Linked DNA regions of Homo sapiens: region 2 is linked to region 1. Evidence: fine-mapped expression QTL. Tissue or cell type: thyroid. Region 1 holds a variant in brackets; the other region holds the start of a gene. All regions are shown on one strand. Distances are between the middles of the regions.

The links. PIP is the estimated chance that this variant, and not a neighbour inherited with it, causes the effect.
Region 2: it holds the start of ARHGEF39, and the variant in region 1 is fine-mapped to the expression of ARHGEF39 in thyroid (GTEx, PIP above 0.99). The same link has a PIP of 0.9 or more in esophagus muscle, gastroesophageal junction, hippocampus and spleen.

Annotation. Positions count from the first base shown.
Region 1 is chr9:35,637,422-35,640,102 of GRCh38, reverse strand. It overlaps a transcript of CD72 not described here. Among named protein-coding and RNA genes, the nearest start is that of SIT1, 12 kb to the left of the region's middle. The variant A/G (reference allele first, on the strand shown) is at 1,364.
Region 2 is chr9:35,664,157-35,666,837 of GRCh38, reverse strand. ARHGEF39 (Rho guanine nucleotide exchange factor 39) reads left to right here and starts at 1,643. Exons shown (of 9, transcript NM_032818.3): 1 at 1,643-1,806; 2 at 1,988-2,082; 3 at 2,346-2,466. The coding sequence starts at 1,669. RefSeq lists a silencer at 1,475-1,624 and an enhancer at 1,775-1,854.

The DNA of each region.
Region 1 (2,681 bases):
GTCACAGAATGAAAACCATTTTAGTAAATAGCAATAATTCAGTCATTTTTGGTGGAAATTCTTTGATGTGATCTAAACCAAAATGAGATCAGCTTTGCTTCAAAAAGATTTTGCCAAATAAGAGAAACTGCTGAATATTTAACGTTTAAAATATCAATTTCTATGTATTTTTTCCTTTTTCATGGTGTTCAGGAATTAATTTTGTTAGCAGTCAAGATTGCTTAATCCTCAGAGTTACATTTCCATTTTGCAAAGTAACAACTGGTTGGTTTTTACTCTTAGTTTCCCTTTCCCCAGCCAGCATGTAAACAACCTGCCATATTGTTGCAAAAAGGCAAATAGGGTTAAAATTGGAGACAAGACTTCCATCATTTTTGCCAAGCAGAGAGGGAAGAACTCAGTAATCACATAATTCTGCTCAAACTAAGTGTATCTGAGAACTATTCAAATGTTCACAGGAGGACAGATGACCTCTTTTTTCTCCATTTCTCTTTGGATGTTACACTTTGTCATTTGTCATCAAAATTGGCCTTTTCCTTTATCTCTTTGTGGTAAAGCTTGATGGCATCTGAATTTACACTGTCTCCTTGACAGTTGTGCTGCTTCTGCTTCTTTCTGGCAGTTTCTACTTTTCCTTTCATTTTATTATCCTGCTTTTTATTTCAATTTTGTTTTTATAGTCTCTGTGTACTGTCTTGACCTTTAGATGGTCTTACCTTCAACATGGCAAGGATGTCACACTACCACGTACAAATAACAATGTGCTTTCTTAGCTCATTTCCCTAGCATGACTTTTTTTGAGATGTCAAAAGCAAGTTTTTGAGAAACCAATTGCATTTTTATTTTGCCCTAAGGGTGCTTAACCCAATGTCTCTTCTTTTATTATTATTTTATTACCCAAGGGAAAAAAAATTTACTTAGTTTATTTTTTTAAAGCCAGTACTTTGCTCATCAATTAATGTTTGTTGAATTTATTCCTACTGGATGAGTAGTTGTATTCTTTTGAAATAATGTGTCAAATCTTTGTGCCCAAAGATTAAAAAAATAAAAGTAAAATACATCTAAAAAAAAAAAAAAAGAATAAGGCGGCCTTCCGGCCCCTCTGGGTCTAGGGCGGTAAAGCGTCTAAGGGTTGCTGCCAAGCGGGCCAGGAACTGGGCTGGGTTTTCGCCTTTACCTTGGGTAGTTTCCTTTAGCTTGTCAGAATTAACAGCTTTGTGTGCTGCCTTTTTAAGCCCTTCAACTAGGCAGGAAATCATGTAATCTCGCCTAGCTATACCTGGGGAATCTGCCTGATAGTTCCTTTGGGGGTCCTCTCGGGGAACTGCTCTGATGCCTTCCTGGAGGCCTGGCTCATGAAGCC[A/G]GCGGTTGTCAGCGTGAGACTGGGCTAGAGAAAAAACTCTTTCCTGTTCATCTGGGGAGAGGGTGGAAGTCAGGATGACATTTAAGTCACTGCAGGTTAACTTGCAGGACAGAGTTAGATATCGGAATTCCTGTATATATTTAGCGGGGTCTGATGAGAAAGAGCCCAAACACTGGCTGATTTGGGAAAAGTCTGATACAGAAAAAGGCGCATGTACCCAGACTATGCCTTCAGCTCCAGCCACTTCTCTAAGAGGAAATTGTTGGGCAGGTGGGGGAGAGCTAGTCGCAGAACAAAACTGTAAGCCAGACTGGGTGTGAGGAGGGGAGGTGATAGAAGGGTTATAGGGTGGGGGAGCGGAGGCTGAAGAGGAGCTGGAGCCTGATTCAGCCTGGTGGGGAGCGACCTGAGGAGGAGCAGTCTGGGGAGGAGGGGAGAGGTCAGATGGGTCGGTAGAAAAGGAAGATTCAAAAGACCCAGCAACACTTGGGGTTGGGACTGAAGGGACAGGTGGGAGGGAAAGAAGGAGGATTTGGGACAAGTCGCATTGGGAACAGAGACTAGGGAGAGAATGAAGTGTGAAAGACGCCCGGATGTACGGCACCTCCGACCATTTGCCCATTTTTCGACAAAAATTATCTAGGTCTTGTAGGATAGACAAATTGACAGTGCCGTTCTCTGGCCACTTGGAACTATTTTCGAGTTTGTATTGGGGCCAAGTGGTATTGCAGAAGAAAATAAGGCATTTAGGTTTTAGGTCAGGTGTGAGTTGAAGGGGTTTTCAAGAACACAGGCTAAGGGAAAAGATGGGGGAATCGAGGGTGGAAGGTTGCCCATAGTGAAGGAGGTAAGTTTAAAGAGAAAGGTAGAGACACGGAGCAGGGGGTGATGAGCAGCCCTGGGCTGCAATGTGGGTGAGCAGCCAAAGCAGGCGTCCCCACAATTGACTTGCCACCAAGGGAATGTGGGTGAATGACCAAGGCAGGCATCCCCGTGGTGATCAGACACCAATGAAATGTGGGTGAATAATCAGGCAGGCATCCCCGCAGTGATTAGACACCAAGGGAAGGCTGTCTTCCTGAGTCCATGACCAGCGCCGGAGTTTTGGGTCCACAGATAAAATGTGTCTCCTTTGTCTCTACTAGAGAGGAAAAAGAACTGGAATTGGAAGGACAGGGAGATTGAAGGGTAGCAAGAGAGGGAGATTGAAGGGTAGCAAGAGAGGCTGGAGAAGAGAGTGAAAAGACCGCTTACCCAATTTGAAATTGGTGAGATGTTCCTTGGGCTGGTTGGTCTGAGGACCCGAGGTTGTAGGTGG
Region 2 (2,681 bases), 27 kb before region 1:
GCTGTGGGAGCGGAGTTTAGCAGCTGTTCCAGGTAGAGTATGGTGTGCCTGACTTGCTCTGTGGGAGACTCGGTCCCCAGGGAATTAGTTGTCACCAACTGTTTTCAGTGTGTCTTCTCGGCTTTGCCCTCTTCCTCTTCTAGAGTTGAATGATTCCCCAACCGATGCTCACAGGAGGCTCTATTCCCCACCCCTCTTCCACCCACCCAAAGCACTAACACACACTGGCAGCATTCACAAACACACCCATCACCAACTGCACCCCAGGTGTTGTGGTCTACTCTCATCACCTGGGCTCACAGTGACACCAATTACCATGGGATTATCTGTCCTCTTCCATGTTTGAGCTCTTAGTGTGTGGACTGTCCCACATTCACTTGAGACAGTGTAACCAGTCCTTTACCTATCTGGTATCACCACCAGTTTCCTTGGGACATAAGCCCAAGGTACAGTCTGATCCAAACTCTCCCCTTCCTTCATCCAAGCCCTTCAAGTTATTCCTCCCTGGTCTAAGCCCAGCATTATTCCTTTCTTAGAATTCTTAGAATGTCAGAGCTGGTGGGGAGGTGGTAGAGACCTCAGAACCCTGACAATCCTCTGGTTCTTGGCTTGCGGCCCAGATTCCTAGGAGTCCAAAACAGTAGGGAGGGAGCCTAAAGTTTCTGACATTTTGTTTTTTTTAATAACTTTTTTTTTCTAACTACAAAGTAATGCATGCTTAATGTAGAAAACTTGGGAAAGGCAGAAGTATAAGAGAATTTTTAAAATCACCCTGTTTGTCCCATTCATCCCTTTAGCTTCAGTGATCCAGTGCCTGGCACAGATACAGATTAGGTACTTAATACACATTTGTTAAACACATTATCTTCAATTCCATTACCCGGAGATAAAAACCACAGTTAACTTTTTATTTTTATTTTTTATTTATTTATTTTTTTTTTGGAGAGATGGAGTCTCGAACTCCTGGGCTCAGGTGATCCTCCTGCCTCTGCCTCCCAAAGTGCTGGAATTACAGGTGTGAGCTCCCGTGCCTGGCAACAGAGTTAACTTTTGATTGTTTTGCCTTCCAACATTTTATATATGTTTTATACAAAGGGGATTATATTATACACCTTTGTAGCCTGCTTTTTTTCCTCTCAGCAATATACTTACTATGTGCGTTTTCCCATATCGATAGCTTCTTTACAACACCATTTTTAATACTTTCATATCATTCCTTCAAATGGCTATACCTTTTCCTAGCCAATTCTGGGAACAACTGACCCCCTGGCATTTGGCATGGGCCCAGGACAGAATGTGTACTGTAATGACCGCCCCCCGTCCCAATTCTCCAGATAGGACATTAAGTTCCTGCCAGCATCTGCAGCCCGTCTCCTGACTCAAAGTTCAGGCTGCTGCTCCAACATAGTGCCACTCAGAGGAGGGCTCCACACCTGCCCCCAACCTTGCCCTGCCCTGCCCTGCCTTGGCCGGCGCCGCGCACCTAAAGCGCCGCTCTGGCGGTGGGGCTGGACAGAAGAGACCCTGCGCGGTCCGGCCGCTCGCCGCGCATGCTCCTTCCTGCGCGCTGCCCTCCCCGGCCCCGCCTCCGCGGCTCCCGCCCGCGAGCGGTTGGGATTTGAATCTGCCGCGGACTGCAGCCGGAAGTGTCGATCCCTCAGCCAGGGCATGGAGCTCTCCTGCCCCGGTTCGCGGTGCCCGGTGCAAGAGCAGCGTGCCCGCTGGGAGCGGAAACGCGCCTGCACCGCCCGGGAGCTGCTAGAGACCGAGCGGCGCTACCAAGAACAGCTGGGGCTGGTGGCCACGGTGGGGGACCTGGCACACGCTCCCATTATAGGACAGGGACCCCAGGGTGTGGGAGGGTCTCTGCGAGGTCGGTAACCCGGAGCATGTAGGGAGCCTGGGCAGACTTCTGCGGTTTCTGGGGGCGCTTGGCGTTAGCCTTCTCTTCCTCTAGGCTAAGAACCAATGTTCTCTCCTTCCGCAGTACTTTTTGGGGATCCTGAAAGCCAAGGGGACCCTGCGACCACCTGAGCGCCAGGCCCTGTTTGGCTCCTGGGAGCTCATCTACGGCGCCAGCCAGTGAGTGGAAGGGGCACAGGGAGAGGAAAGGAGGGAGAGTCCTGGCCTGTGGCCGTGCACAGAGCTTGGAGTCAGACTTAGGTTCTATTTGGAGTCCGCCAGTTAGCTCACCTGTGGCCTTGGCCCAGGGCCTTAGCATGCCCTTGTTCTCCATCTGTACAATGGGGTAATAGCACTACTATTAGTGCTATTCTCATGAAAACTAAATGAGGTGGTGCTTGAGTGGTTCTAGAGCTGCCCTTTTGCTGTCCTTGCCCACACAGGGAGCTGCTTCCCTACCTGGAAGGAGGATGCTGGGGCCAAGGGCTGGAGGGCTTCTGCCGCCACTTGGAGCTCTATAACCAATTTGCTGCCAACTCAGAGAGGTCCCAGACCACCCTGCAGGTAACCTGGAGATGACCTCAAATCTTGCCCCTTACCTTTCCCCTTCATCTGGAGACCCAAACTTCATACATTTCCTGCATTTATAGAGCCCTCTGGGTGCTCAGCTCTGTGGTAAGTTCCTTGTAGAGAAACGAGAGTTTCTCTCAGGAGCACAGCTTACTGAAGGCTGGGAATGTGGATACAGATGAATGCAATATAAGGAGTGGCTTCTCTCC